Regions from separate parts of the Homo sapiens genome. Here region 1 is linked to region 2. The links come from fine-mapping of genetic effects on gene expression. Tissue or cell type: whole blood. Region 2 holds a variant in brackets; the other region holds the start of a gene. All regions are shown on one strand. Distances are from middle to middle.

What was found. PIP is the estimated chance that this variant, and not a neighbour inherited with it, causes the effect.
Region 1: it holds the start of FAM76B, and the variant in region 2 is fine-mapped to the expression of FAM76B in whole blood (INTERVAL, PIP above 0.99).

Annotation. Positions count from the first base shown.
Region 1 is chr11:95,785,162-95,793,348 of GRCh38, reverse strand. It overlaps FAM76B (family with sequence similarity 76 member B), which reads left to right and starts at 3,567. Exons shown (of 10, transcript NM_144664.5): 1 at 3,567-3,957; 2 at 4,786-4,850; 3 at 5,671-5,725; 4 at 7,075-7,230. The coding sequence starts at 3,871. CEP57 (centrosomal protein 57) reads right to left here and starts at 2,851. Exons shown (of 11, transcript NM_014679.5): 1 at 2,606-2,851. The coding sequence starts at 2,650. RefSeq lists enhancers at 1,943-2,606, 2,570-3,039 and a silencer at 3,540-3,959.
Region 2 is chr11:95,911,281-95,919,467 of GRCh38, reverse strand. The region is part of intron 1 of MTMR2 (myotubularin related protein 2); the gene reads left to right. Among named protein-coding and RNA genes, the nearest start is that of MTMR2, 8.7 kb to the left of the region's middle. The variant A/T (reference allele first, on the strand shown) is at 3,571.

The DNA of each region.
Region 1 (8,187 bases), 130 kb after region 2:
GCTGACATGAAAGACATTCTTGTGTATTTCAACACAATGCTGCCCATACCTCCATATGGAATTAATTTCATTATGCCCAATCATAGTTGCTTTCCTGCCTTTTCCACCAGTCGAAGTTTATCAATTCCAGAGCAATCACTCAATAAACGTTACCTAGAACCTAACTGAAACCTATCGCCCTACTTCCATGCTGTTCACATTTGAGATTTACATGGTCACTGCTTCCCAAAGACGGTTATTTATGAATCTACTTGTTAAAAATCTTTGCCTGTAAAGCATCTCAATGTACTTATAACTAGCTCCGTATGAGTTTATCAATGTCGAAAACAGTTGAATATAACAGTTGTTAATCTTCATAACCGTGAAATCTGAATACGAGTTGTGTTCTCAGTTCATGGTATAGTTTTAACAAGTTTTTTTTTTTTTAAATGTTGCCTACTGTTAAGATCAGCTGTTTGATAAGCTAAGTGCTTTTCCAACGCTGTTGGAAATGGCAGCCTTATTTCTGATGGGACATCTAAGCAGGACGTTTTCTTACGCACCAAGAAACCAACTAAATTTAGTCATTTTTGTTTTGAGAAACAGTAACTTCCAAAATAGACATTTTGATGTAGCAGATTGAGTTATGGTTGTTATACTTTGATTTGTGGAGGTTCCTAGATATTCTTAGTGTACCCTTGATATTTAGAATCCTATTAAAGCTGAGCTTAGCACAAAAAAAATATGCTTTCCTAATGAACAGTCTTTGGTATTTCTGTCAAGGGTACCGTATAAGTATTAACAGCTGACTATATCCCAGTGCCAATGCTCACCTAGGTGTCCTTGGCATAGTGCAGCTCAATTAAACGTTTATTTAATATTTTATTTTATGGAGACAGGGTCGCTCTGTCGCCCAGGCTGGAGAGCAGTGGCACTATCATACCTCACTTCAGCCTCAGTGATCCTCCCGCCTCAGCCTCACTAGTAGCTGGTATTACAGGCATGAGCCACGCACCCAGACTCAATTCAACATTTGTAAGAGTATTCCTTGTTCGGTCTCCAAGTGCTTAACTTTTGAGAGCCGTGAAAAGCCCTCTTCTCCCAAGTTTAATCACATCTCCTATAAAATCTCATCCATCTGCTGACACTTCCAATAGTTTTTTACTTTTTTCTTTTACTGACCTAATCCTGAATAACCTTAAATTGCTGCTTTCCTTACTTCTCCTTAACTTCCCCAGACCTCTCTGCAAACTTCTAATTCCCATTCGGCTGAAACACTGTAATACTTCTAGTCCCATTATTACAAATTCTAACAAGTCTCCAAAAGCTGAAACTGACTTCTCCAAGGTGACCAGGCTTTCTTAGCGTTTCCAACTCTTTCCCCCTAGATCCTAGAAAATAACTTTACCCTGATACTCTTCTAGTTCCTTCCCTCACCATCCTTCTTTTTTCACGTTTTTACCTACGTTTCCAATTCACCTCATCCAGCTCTACCTCCGTATTACTTCTTCTCATTCCGAACTATCTCAAGTTTCCTAAAAGCACCTACTGTTCTAGCACATACTCCAAAATTCCCGCACTGCCTTTTTCTCCTTTCTCTACTCTTGGGACAAGCAATCACAATTCCTTCGACACGCAACTAGCTCCATCTTCCCTTCTAGGAAACCTTCTCTAGCCTACCCAAGCACTGTTAATCACTCCCCTCTAGATTATTCTACTACGGTAGCACTTCCTAAACTATACTGCGCAGTAATCACTAATTACGTGTAGTTTCTCTTCAGTGTTTTTCTCCTTCAAAGCAGGGTTTCTATTCTGTTCATTTGGACCCTAACAGTATACCAGGCATCGAACATTTGCTAACTGGAGAAATAAGAGCTCCAACATTTACTTCCTATCAAAGCTTTCCAATGCCGCGGTTTTCAAAAACCTAAGCATTCGACACTCCAATTTGAGAAATACCAGTGAATACCAGTAACTAAACTGGATGGTGACATTTGATGAGGCGAAAACAATATTTAAAATCAATTCCCCCTGTCGCCTCTCCAAAAGGGCATTTCCACATTGAAGTTCCAGTAATTCTAGGTGACAGGAAGCGCGCGTTCTGGCTACGAGCATCACACAACGAAGTTAATGTGGATGGGAGTGGGAGGCACTGCAGGGATAGGAAACAGCATAAGCAACGACTAGTAAGCGCTCGAGAGACGGCGGACTACTATTCTGCAACGTCTCTTAAACACACTGGCGCGCCTCACCTGATCTGGCGAGTTTCCTAGAGGGGCCGCTGAACCCACGTGACCAAAAGAGCTACATTTTTGCAGGCCAGGGAGTGGGCAGTTATCCCAGCCGGCCCTTGGGAATGTTAGGCAACCGGGGTTGGTTGCTACGCCAAAAGGTGAATAAGGGCTGGGGAACAGGGGCGGCCAGCCCAGTTTCACTGGGAGCCAGAGGGTGCAGCTTCGACACAGCCACAGTGAATGGAAGCTTGGGGAGCGCGGGGCAATCTAGGCATTCCCGCCGACCTCCAGAATTGCGTCAGAAGCTGGACTGACAGCGCCCTGAAACGTGAGGAAACTCAAAGAGGCGCTTAGGGCCGACGTGGGGCCCACTCGCGCCAACTGCTTCTTACCGACAAGTGAGAACCAGAAGCCGCAGAGACAGACGCCGCCGCCATCTTTCAGCCTGCCCAGGGGGTCTCCGCACTTCGGGGGCGGTCTAGGTTCTCGTGCTCTTCTCCAAGACTCGGGAGCCGCCCACCAGCGGGGACCCTAGGCTGAACCCCTGATGGAAAAGGGCAAGGGTGCTGGTGCTGGGCTTGGAAACCCCTGCAACACACCCCCTCAGGGCCGCCTACGCTCACAGCTTACACAGAAAGGGCAACACGTCCTAACGGACGTCTTTCCTAGCCAATCAAAACAGCAGACGTCTTTCTGTAGTAGGAGAGAATCCGCCTCTTCCCTGGTGACGTCACAAGGTAGCGCGTAACGGGGCCCGCTGGGGCAGACAACGCCGGGGTTACAGGCCGGCTCTGCGGGGATTCTACGGAGGGTCGGGCCTCCTCCAGTAAGAAGCGTGGGCGAGTAGTGGTGTCGCCAGTGGCAACTGAAGGGAGTAATGGAGATAAAACAAAAGCGAAGGCGAAGTTAAAGCACTCCACGAGTTCCCTCGGATTAAACGCCGGAGAGAGCGTGAATTTGCCTCGGGGACGCCTCTCCAGGTGAAGTATTTACCTTTTGGCCAATAACAAATAGGATTAGGAGGGACTTAACGATTTAGTCCAATAGAAAGCAAGGGAAAAAAAGTTGCGGCAGAGAACGAGCCTTTCGCGAACATTTGCTCAATTGGATTGGGGCGCTCTCAGCCAAACCTGGGACTGGCTGTTAGAAATAGCCGCGACCGCAGACCTTTGGGCGGGGCAGGTTCAAAGCGGATTTCGCGCGCTGAGAGCTCCGGGATGTCATTGGCCGGCGACATCCTCCCTTTGTGGGCGCTTCCTGCGTCGCGGAAGTTGGGAGTTGGGAGGAGCCATCGAATGACGCGATAGCCTTCGCAGCCAATCAGGGATGGGAAAGGGAGGCCGAGAAGGAAGCGGATCCACGGCCGCACAGCTAAACAGCAACCCCCTACCCGCTTCGTCTCCCTCCGCCGCTATCGGGGCCTAAGCGGGAGCGGCTGGCACGGCGTCACTGGGTGGGCTGGGGCGGAAGTGGAGGCGGAGGGAGACGGTGGCGTCGTCCGCGGGGCCCTGGGCTCTCGCGGCGAGGCCCTGGTGGGCGCGAGGCAGGGGGAGGGGGAGGAGGAGGAGCCCGCGGCCCGGGCGGCGGCGGCTCTCGGGTTCTCCGTAGGGCCCCGCCTCGGAGCGGGCGGCGGCGGAGGAGGAGACTGAGGAGCAGGATGGCGGCCTCGGCCCTGTACGCCTGCACCAAGTGTACCCAGCGTTATCCTTTCGAGGAGCTCTCCCAGGGCCAGCAGCTCTGCAAGGTCCGTGGGCTCCGGGAGGCGGGCGGGATGGGTGTCCTCGGCCGTAGCCGGAGGGGGCCGGGTAGCCGCTGCACTGCAGCCCCTCTTCGCCGGCGCCTCAGGGGTTTGGGAGTCTGGAGCCCTCGCCTCCCCACTCGGGGACCCCTTTTTCTGGGGGCTTGAACATTAGCTGGGAACGGACCCTGAAAGGGAGGCAGAATCGTGCCCTTTTCCAGGCGGCCCAGGAGGGTGCCGGGCCCCGTCAGCGTCTGGGGGTCTCAGGAGTGGGGTTGAGTGAGGCAGCCACCTGTCTATGCCGCAGAGACCCAGGGGTGGAGATGTTTTCATCTCGGTTTTCTGCCTGGTCTGTCCTCTTCTTCCACCAGGAGGCAGGGGACGGTTTTTGCACTTTCTTGCTAGGAACCCGAAGCCGCAAAGCTGATGGCATCCTTCTTCCCTGTCCAGGAAAGCGAAGCGACTGGTTTGGGAACAGAATGCTCTGATTTGGAGCTCCTCCCATCCCATTAAAGCCTGGATGCTGTCTGTGAGCAACGGTGCAAAATAATAAGTAGTTTCACATTTAACCAATCCTTGAAATAGGCCCTGACAGCTTTCTTAATTTGTCTGTAATATACCCCCACGTCTACTAAAGACAAAGACACCTGTGCCTTCCCTAAGGAATTATATTGTGATTGGCCACTTATATGATAAAGCATCCAGTTCTTTACGTTGGGGCCAGGTTTTATAAATGTTTTAGACTTTCACTAGGTTGGGTAAACAGTTTTCTACCAGAAAAGTGAGATTTGGGACTTTCAGAAAGATACTGACTAATGTATTGTCTTATTACAGGAATGTCGGATTGCACATCCTATTGTAAAATGTACTTACTGCAGATCAGAATTTCAACAAGAGAGGTTTGTATACTGAATAGTTTTTGACTGTTAAAGACAAGTGTTGTCTTTATGGAATACTTGGGGGTTGTAATCCCATGTTTTTATGAAAGTATTTTTAAAAAATGGTTTAGCCCCAGAAATTTTAAGTTGTAAACCTTTTATACATGGTGGGAGAGAGAATGTTGCGAAAAAAACCAGTGGTGGTTAATTTACAGTTAGACTTTATATGAGAGAAGGAATAATACTACATGGAAAATGTACAGCCTTGCTAATGAAAATGCAAATGTAAACAGTTATGTTAAACTAAAAAAAAATGGTAAAGCCTTAATGGATCTGAGGAAAGGTCTGTAGTGTTACCAACTGCCTTCCAAGGTGAAAATCTAATAATTTGTTACATAGAAGAGGAGTAGTACGTAACATTTTTAACAGTTCCACTCTGAGAGTATATACAGAAAGTAGCCTCAGAAAAGAACAAATAATTTCTTCATAAATAGGTGTGGGCATTATAATGTTGGACAGTAGCCAAGTGGAAGGTTAGGTAGGCACTGGTATTGTAATGCTGTGCAGTAATAGTGTCAAGTGTGAAGATTTTGGAGCTATATAGGAAACATTAAGATGTTTTGTTTACAAAAAGTAATATGCAATAAAAATGTATAAAAACATTTGTCATAAGTTAATTTGGGTAAAACAACTCTGAAAATATCCTTGTATATTTGAAAAAAATCCGTGGTCCTTATTAAAGTTTTAAGTACAACAAATCTTTGACTCATTTTATTTTGACATTGTGCTAATTACTTTAGAAAGCTACATAAACATGATCTATATACAATTTATTTTTCAGCAAAACTAACACAATTTGTAAGAAGTGTGCTCAAAATGTGAAGCAATTTGGGACGGTAAGTATGTCTTATGTTTTCATGTCATTGTTACCAGTTAATATTTTTCATAAAGCTGGACCTTTTAAAAAAATATGTACTGCTGGCTGGGCACAGTGGCTCACGCCTGTAATCCCAGCACTTTGGGAGGCCGAGGAGGGCGGATCACAAGGTCAGGAGATGGAGACCATCCTGGCTAACACGGTGAAACCCCATGTCTACTAAAAATACAACAAAAAAAAAATGAGCCGGGTATGGTGGTGGGCGCCTGTAGTCCCAGCTACTCCAGAGGCTGAGGCAGGAGAATGGCGTGAACTCAGGAGGCGGAGTTTGCAGTGAGCTGAGATCCTGCCACTGCACTCCAGCCTGGGGGACAGAGCGAGACTGCGTCTCGAAAAAAAAAAACTACTGCTATGCTCTTAGATATTTCAACATACCATATTTTATGAAAGACATTTTCTATAGATACTTTGATGGAAAGGTGATAACATTTAAAAACAGTCAAATTATATACCTGTTTTACATGTATTGAATCCAGTGTGAAATTTGTGAAGCTGTTCTTTAGAGATTCAAATATAGCAAATTCTTGGTTATGGAGAACTTATCCATAAAGTTTGCATCATCAGACTTTAGCCCACTTCAGAACAGCCTCCTCAGAACTATTTTTATAAAACAGCGCAATTAAAGATATTTATTCACAGAAGTCATGACCCAATCCTAGTACAAATTGTCTTATATGTATACTACAATCATTATAGGTATATTATACCAATATTATTTATTATTGGTCAAAAATGCTAACTTTAACGCTCTAAACTGCCCTGAATCATCTTTTGAATATCAAAGAAAATCAAGGTATGTTTTTATAGTTTATGTTGAATATGCTTGTTCTCATTTTTTCAAAGTTGAAAACTCACAGTATATATTCCTTATATGATTTGTACCTATATGTGATGAAAAGTTAACATTTTCTAAATAAATGATATGGTCATTAAGGTAACTAGGATATTAGTAGAAGGACGTTTCCTCAAATTCTTGATTCATGAGACTTCTCTACATATGTACCTTTATTTTCGTTCTTTAAAACCTTTTTTATGTGTAGTTTTTGTATTATCTAACAGACTATGCAAATCACAAATCTATTTCTCACGATCTTAGAGTAATAGTTACATGACTAGAAATAAATACTAGTTGAATGCATAGAAATATGGTATAAAAGTTATTGCATGTGACAGGGCAACAAACTTGACAGAAAACAAATTTTTTACCTGAGTTTTCTTAATTCCAGAAATATGTCTACAACACTGGGTATATGCTATGCCGCAAATATTTAATGTTTTTAAAAGTCTCAAAATGTGTATGTTTTTCAGCCCAAGCCTTGTCAGTACTGTAACATAATTGCAGCATTTATTGGTACCAAGTGTCAGCGTTGCACAAATTCAGAAAAAAAGTATGGACCACCTCAGACCTGTGAACAGTGCAAACAGCAATGTGCTTTTGATCGGAAGGAGGAAGGAAGAAGAAAGGTATGCTTTATTTATGTTATGACATCTTCTGGAAATTAAATAAAATGCCAAACAAGTTGGAAATTATAATTAATACACTACTGAGACTGGATCTATTCTTTAGGTCCATGAAAGCAAGTAGTTAGATGAAAGTGCAGGAATAGTGAGTTTTCTCTTTGTTTGCATGATACATAGATTCATGTACTATACTTTAAAAAATATTCTATGGTGGCTATTCTGTACTAGTTGGCTATCCCACATTTGGTTCAGGAGATTTAACTAATTGCTTAAATATCTCCTTTTACTTTACCCTTTTGCTAGTTACTTGACATCACTGGTGTGAAAAAAATACCTGATGGCACATTGGCACATAAAATTCAGTTACTCTTGTGCCTTTTGATAAAGGCTCATATTTGAAACTGTTGTTTGTTTTTGTCTACCTGCAGTGACTTAATGTAATAAGTATTTGTGTTCATGTGATAATTCCTTTGCCGATCAGCATTCACACAGGCCTCCTGTTGCCTATCAATTTTAGTTGATTTGGAGAATGACTACCTCTTTGAGGGGCTTCCTCAGGTCTCCCCACAGCAATGTACATATCCCATTATAAGACATGTCCCTCCAGCATGTCTGGTACATAAACATCATGGAATACTATGGATGGAATACATGTGAACAAACAGAAGATAAAAACTTGGTTTTATTTTTAGAGGTTTAGTCAGTACTTCTGGAAAGTCTCTTCTTTGACACAGGTACGATTGATTCTCATTATTTGTGGTAGTTCTTTAAAGTTCCCACAAAACAGTGAATACGGTAGTACCCACCTTATCCATGGGAGATACCTTCTAAGACCAGTGGATGCCTGAAACTGGGGATAGTAACGAACCTTACTGTGTTTTCTCCTGTACATACGTGCCTATGATAAAGTGTAGTTTTTAAATTAGGTATAACAGGAGACTAATAAAAATAATAACAAAA
Region 2 (8,187 bases):
CCAGATTATTTGGTTTTATCAATTTGTAGTATATAATTTCATTAGCATTGATGAGCATCTTATATTTACATTTAACTTCCATTAAAAAAATCAAAGGGGGGGTACACATACTCAAAGTAGTTCTCAACTAATTGCATTTATAAATTGCATGCCTGCCTTAAAATTATCATCATTTGAAAACAGGAATTCCTAGATTTCTGTTTCCATGGATTTTGATTATACTTATAGCCTGAAGAAGTAGAGGAGTTTCCTAGATTTCTAAAACACATTTTGTTGCAAGGTCTCATCTTTAGTTTTAGCCTCAAGGTCACTTAAGAGTGACGTGTTGGAGGCCAGGTGCAGTAGCTAACGCCTGTAATCCTAGCAGTTTAGGAGGCTGAACAGTTTGGGATTGCTTGAGTCCAGAAATTCCAGACCAGCCAGGGTCACATGGCAGAACACTGTCTCTGCAAAAAATAAAAAGTTAGCTGGGCATGGTAGTGCATGCCTGTAGTCCCAGATACTTGGGAGGCTGGTGTGAGAGGATCACCTGAGCCTGGGAACGTTGAGGCTGCAGTGGGTTGTGATAGTGCCACTGTATTCTGGCCTGGGCAAGACAGTGAGACCCCGTCTCAAGAAAAAAAAGTGATATGTTGGTAGGAAATATGCTTTTATGTTGTTTTTCTAGTAGTGGTGATGGATTTGTGTACAATCACACATTTTTACCCATTCCCTTTGTCACTCTTGGCATGTCTGCTGAGACAGCTGGCAAGATTAGAGGTAGAAATTATAGCTGTAAAACAGAGTAAAGCTACCAGATTGAACCTACAACCTTGGCATTATTAGTAGTACCTTGTATCAAACATTGAACATATTAGACTAAAAATTACTTATTTGGATTTCATTACTTAAAAACCCTCAAAGATCTAAGTTCTCTTAGATAAGAAACAATATTGGTCTGACATAGTAATTATGTAGCTTTTCAGAAAGCACATATTTGAAGAATGCAAGTTGATAGTGAACCTGAGACTGGGTCCCGTATATATCTGTATTTTTCCTTTTTATGCTATTATCAATAATTTCCTATTAGTGTAGACCAGTAGTTCTCAAAGTTTGGTCTCCAGGCCAGTAGCATCAGTATCTCTTTGGGATTTGTTAAAAATGCAAATTCTTGGGCCCTACCTTGGACCTAACTGAATTAACATTTTAGGGGTGGAGCCCAGCTGTTGGTGTTTTAGCAAGCTTTCCAGGTGATCCCGATGGATGCTGAAGTTTGAGAACCACTGCCTTGGATCTTTTGCTAATTGGTGCCTTTTGTAATGCAATCAACATTAGTTAAAACTAAGTTAAGGTCTATGTTAGAAGTACTGTAAAACTATTACTTGAGAGCATTTTTGTAAAAATGTTGACTAAAGTAGTAAAAGGTAAAAGTCATCTCTTGTCGATTTATTAGATTTGATTTCTAGGAAATTTCCTAAGGCATTTTTCTTTGAGTAACATAAAACAAGAATATGCGTTTTAGGCTTTTTCTTAAAAATAGATTCTTAGTGAGAAAGATTAGTGGAAACAAGCATTTTTAAAAAAAGTACAGTTGACCCTCGAACCACATGGGTGTGAACTGTTCAGATCCACTTTTATGTGGATTTTCTTCTGCTTCTGCCACCCCTGACACAGCAAGACCAACCCCTCCTTTTCCTCCTCAGCATGTGCAACATGATGAGGGTAACAAACTTTATGATGACCCACTTCCACTTAATGGGTAGTAAATGTATTTTCTTTTCTTTGTGATTGTCTTAATAACATTTTTTTTCATTGTTAGAGTTCAGTATATTGGCGTGCAGCCTGAAATATGTTTTGATGGGCTGTTTATGTTATCCGTAAAGCTTCCAGTCAACAGTAGTCTATTAATAGTTAAGTCTGGGGAGTAGTTTGGGGAGTCAAAATTATATGCGGATTTTCAGCTGCGTTGAAGGTCAGCACCCCAACTCCTGTGTTGTTCAAGGGTCAACTGTATTATGAACAAGTAATTCCAGGAGGCCATCACCTGAACCTGTAAAGTTTGGATTATGCCCAGGGGAAGGAGATAACCTGGATACAGATGACCAGAAAGCAGTAAGTTTATTTTGGAAAGCTGCCAAGTTAATGCTATTGTATTCAAAATCATCAGAGCCAAAGATTGCGTGCGATTCAGGATTTGAGTAATGGAAATTCTCCAGATTTTAGTGTGGAATATTTTTCCTTTGTAAGGAAGATGGTTTTGAATATGTAAAGTACTTGCTATCTTTGTGTCTACTGTTTGATTTAGTTAAATCGGTAGATAATAATTAAACACTATTAGAGGTGATAGTCAAGGATAGGGAGTGATTTTAAAAACCTGCTTTCCACAGGAAGTCAAATTAAAAATGGAACTGTATAAAAAGATAAAGTTGGTACTAGATTATTAAAATAAAAAGGACTAGGGAAGATGCCTTCTTGAAAATAATAACTTCAGTTCCCTTTCCTGTAGCTTTATTATGCAAAGCTAATTGTGCCTGTCCCTCCTAATATGTTTCTATATAGGTACCAATGTTGTCATTAATACAAACTGTTAATAAGCAAGCTTCATAATTCTTCCCTTCCCCAAGTACATAGGACCTATGGCCATAATCACTGGTGAATATTTATTCTTTCAAAGACTCTTACTTTGTGTGAATAACTCTTGGGCTCTTTAAATATTTTTAGTCTAGAGTAAATAAGAGCAAATGCTGTGTATTAAATATATTAAAAATTACCTGTAAAATATATTTTAATTAAAAATTTAAACACTGTTATTTGGAAAATTCTTTTTTTTTTTTAAGTTCTACTTTAGGTTTAGCAGCACATAACAAAATACAAACTGACAGTGGCTTAATATAGGAGATGCTAAATTTTTTTCCACATGAAAGCCTGGAGATAGTCAATACAGATCTAATATGGTGGATCTGAAGTATCAAGGACCCAGATTGTCTTACATTCCAGGGTTACCTCATGAACCAAAATTATTGTTGGAACTCCAGCTATTATATCTTCAGGAGGAAGGGAAGAAGAGGAGCATACTCTCTCTCTTTGAAGGATACTTTTTTGGCAGTCACATGTCATTTTTTTTAACTTACATCCAGTTGGCTAAAACATGGATGGTCCCATGGCCATACGTAGGTAAACAAGAGGCTGGGATAGGCAGTCTCATCTGTGAGGCCTTTGTGCTGAGCTAAATTTGGAGGTTCTGTCACTGAGGAATAGGAGAGAATGGGTATTGGAGTCATAGCAGCTTTTCCCCTTGGGTACAGATGAATCATTTAAAAGAAAGACATTTTCCACCTAAAGTCTGCAATATTTCACTTATGCCAGAGACACCCTTAGAGCTGCAAATGCGATGACCAAAATAGAAAACACACTGAAAGAGAGGAGGTAATACATTGCTGCAGACCAAAAAAGAGAATTGTATCTTGGAGCACTCTGAACTCTTGAGTTTAGCTTTCTATTTTTTTGTGTCTTGTCTTGGGTCAGATTTTTATAATCCTAATCTGGAACCATAAAATGAAAGTGGTACATTTAATATTGACAAGATCATTA[A/T]GTGATGGGGAAACAGAAATCAAAGGAAGAATGGATTGCCGTGCTATATTGTATTTCACTTGAAGAGCTCAAGGAATTGCACGGTAAAGTAGTAGTGGTAATGAAGTTGATGGCCTACTCTGCTTACTTCCAATTTGACATCCATTTCCAAGCCATGTATCCATGTATTTTATCCTCTTCTAGAATGTTGCATCGGGTTCTACTTAGGTATTTTCTCTCATTTCAGTTGTAAGGATGTGGTTTCCATAAGGGAAATAAATAAAGCTGACCATTTTAATTTATGAATGCTTTTGCCAATATTCAGTTTGTTTTTATATCTTTGACCTAAACATTTTATTAAAAATGCGGAGACATCTGTGTCTTATATATTCTTTTGTCACCTAACTTAAATATTAATATTTTAAGCATATAATTTCAAACATAAGGAGTTTATAATTTGGATGTGAATAGAAGAGCATATGTATATAAGTCTCCTTTGGATTGATAAAACATTTATTCATCAGGCTCTGAGGATTTAATAGACATTAAGTCAGAAACATATCCATTTCTCTTCTCGGCAGAATTGCTTTTACTGATAGCAGCAAATGAGCAGTTGCTGAGGTAGGGAGGAGGCCTTGTCTGGAGGTTATGCATTAGCAAAAGGGAAAATAACTGGCTGATGATGGGCTGGTGATTACAAGCCTTAATATTCTTGAGCGAGCCAAGAAGCCCAGCAAAGTTCAAAAATAAAATTTTGTTCTCTGTTCTCTGTTACCAATATTAGATAACAACATTCTTTTATCATAACCAAAGGCATTGCCTCAAAATAGCAACACTGAAAACAAGCCTTGCTTTCCTAGTGGTAGACAGTTATAGTAATAATAATGTTAATATTAAACACAACAATAATATAAATAGCACAACATTTATTGCATGCTTACTATGCTGGGCATGGTGCTACATTTCTTCTATGCATTTTCTCATATAATCCTCATAACTGTATAAAGTAGAGAGTGTTAATGTTTCCATTTTACAGAGAAGAAAACGGAAGATTAGAGAGGGTACCTTGACATGTGAATTCAAGTCCATTTGACTTCAGGGTCTGTGTGCTCTAAAGAACACACATGCCTGAAGATCTAGTGCCCCAGGTGCAGACCAAAGCTTTGTAGTTAGAGGGCAGTCCCAGGGCAGGTTGATTGGGTGGTAGTGATAAGGACATGAGTTTCCTTGACCTGCTATTTTGCTGGAGAAGGATAAAGATACAGTATACATTCACCAAGTGAGAGTTTGTATTTGGAGAGAATTTTACCTTTGAATTTTGTTTGCCTTCTGACAGAAAATAGGATGTTTTTTTTTCTTTGCCTGAGATTAAGAGGATAGTATCATTTCATTCATTACCTGATGATTAAGAGGGTAGTATCGGTAGTATCATTTCATTCAAAAGAACAGTTTTACATTTTGAAGATCATGTAAAGTATGAAGCAAGTAATTGCCAAAGCCTCCTCCCCACCACTCCCTGCCCTGCAGGCTTTGCACAATGATTTAGAATATTTTAGGGTTCCTTAAATTTCTGAATTCCCCTAAGTTCCTTTGTGTTTATTTACAGTTAATGTGTTAAGAGCCATTGACATTTGAAGATCATCAGAAGTGAAGATAAAACATCTCAAAAATTATAATGTAAGTGAATGGGAAAATGCAGATATAAAAATGGACAAAAGTTAATATTGCCAACAGTATTTCTGGATTATATATTATCCCAAATGAAATTTGCACTTATGAGTAACAAGTAGTTTCAAACTTCAGTTCCATTTCCAAGTCCCTGTCCTTAAAATTCTGTGTTCTCTTCTACTTGGGGAAAGCAGTCACTAAGTTTTAGTCATCCAGTTATTTTCCATTAGAATTCTTTTGGCATCCATGTTCTGTTTTCTTCCTTTTCCTCCTTAGCAATTTGCAGTTTGACTTGAGAAGAGGATGACAAGAATTCATGTTATATGCAAAATGTTATAGATACTAAGGTCTTTGCTTTCCAGCTATTGATGTGTGTTGTGTATGTTATTCAAGTGTAATTTTACTACTGTTTTGTATGTTTCTTAGCCAAAAATATGACCAGTTAGTTAGCCGCCTTCCTTCCCCCTCTTTCTCTATTCTTTCTTTTTTTCCCCTCCTCTTTCCCTTCCTTTCTTTCTGCAAATAATTGTTTAACATCTACTGTGCCTTACACACTGTGCTAGATTCTGAATTCCTAAAAGCTTGGTGCTGAAATGAATTATATCATCTTTTCACACTCTTAGAGGGATTAGAGATCAACCAATTAGTGTTTTTCAACTGTGGCTGAGGACCACCTATGTATTTCAGTCAACTGTGAACTTGGTGAACATTTAACTTCCTAGGTTTCAGCGTGGACATTCTGAATCATTGAGGTGACGTTAGGAATCGGCATTTAACAGTTGAAGAACCACCCATCCAAATGCTGTTGGATGCTAGTCTAGTTCCAAAAGTTTTCAGATGTGGAAATAGATCTAGAGAACTCTAATAATTTACCCCAAAGCACAATAAATGTTAGAGGGCCAGGAAAGGTTGTGGTTTTCCTCTGAGGTCATAGAGCTATTTAGTGTCAGAGATGATCTCCTAATTCCCAGTTCTAGACTTTACCATGTAGCATCATGATTTTTTTGCAGGGCCATATAACTTCACTGTATTTCCTGTCTATAGAACCCTCTGCTTATAGGATGTATAAGATTATAACCAATCCATCACTGTTCCTGAAAAAAATAAGAGGACATATGGGTTATGTAAATGAAAAACATACTGTTTCTTCATTTTTAGTCAGATATGTGACTCATTCTGGTTTTGAAATCATTGGATAGACTTGGTGAAGGAAAGAAAAAACTTTTTTTTGTATCCATGATATTATTTCTACCTGGATTTAAGTTTCATGCTTACGAAAATGAGGATCTGATTTCATTTTTTGAGTGAAATAGTAGGTACAAATTTTATAGTGTTTTGCAAATAGTAGGTGCTTGATAAGCTATACTATGAACAGTTTACTGTTAAAACTTTTCTTCATTTGTATTCTGTGAAGTACGCTAGTTAGGAGTGATTTTATTTGCTTCATACAGAATCTGATGCTTTATATACCAAGCCAGAAACTTTAAATAATTGAAATAATTTTATTGTATTTATAATACTATATTTTATAGTTGATATTCACAAGATCTCTGAGGGACTGAAATTTATAAAGTATTTTTGAACTATAAGAGTTTGAATTCGTTTTAGTATTGTGTATATTTTATATTGTATTATGTATGGTATATTGATAGTTACTGATTTGTAACTTTATATGAGTAAATCTCGTTATCTTAATTTTGGAAATACTCTGTAATTCTCAAATTACTAGAGAGTTTAATGATGCAATGCCTTTTTTTAATATTTCAAGACATTTTTATTCTATGATTTTTAAAAAACGTCATTTTAAAATAGCCTATTGATTTCTAAAAAATTATTATATTTTTCAATTATAAATTTTCTTTTCATTAAAAACTTTTTTGTTCTTTTCATAACCATGGAAACAAGATTGTACTTATAAGAGCTCTAGAAAGGAACCTTATCTATTATGTGGTTTTCTAGTTTATGATTTCTAACAACTAATCTGGTAAATAGGGAAGAGTATTCAAAATTAGGGAGAGATATCCTTGGCAGGCATGGATCACTGAGTACTGTCAGTATTTTGATTTTTAGCTTAACCTTTCTGGACTACAAAGAGAAAGATGTTGAATGCTCTACCTTTCCTACTGAGAGTTTTAACTTAGTAACTGAAAAAAAAAAAAAAAACCCACCTGTGTTAACTTCATTTATATGACTTTGAAGTTTGTGCAGAAAAGTTGTATCTCATTACATTGAAAGGGTAGTGAAAGATTAATTGTATAATAAACAGTTTTGCTTGTCTTGGAAAAACAAAATATATCTATCTGGATAGCAAAAATAATGGATATATGACTTTCTAATTTGAATAATGAATTCAGGTTTGCAAGGTGGAGTGAGAAAATTACATGACAGATCATTTTTCAAGACATAAATTTCCCTGTTTTCTATACTTGTCCAAGTAAGTGTTTGTTGAGCAAGTGTTTAGGGAATAGATCACCTTCTCTCTTTTAGTGTTTTTGCCTGTATACTTTAGTTTGGGATGGAAGGGTTAATTTCAGAGCTCTAATAATCTGACCAGTTTTCAGTTTAGTTTGATTCTTCTCTCAGTTAAGTGATATTTAAATAACTTTTTCCCTCTTGGCTACTTATGAATCTGTGTGTTTTCATTTGAGCTGTCATCTGAATTTGAATCGGAGGTTTTTGAAGAGATTCTGAGAAGCTCCTTAAACGGGGTGCTGAGGCTGTGAGATTGGTGCTGGAACTCAAGGTCCTTCCTGCCCTCCAGTCCTCACCCCTGTCTCCCAGGGACACATTCATTTTCCGCAGAATACTTTGGCTTTCACCTCTTTATTTATTTAAATTTCCCAATAAGTTCTTTGAAGAAACAATACTCTGGAGAAAAAACAGACATATGTAAATTATTTTCTATACAAACTGGTTGTTCAGACTCTGCTGCATTATGAAATCATATGCCTGTGTTATATTTTGGGAAAT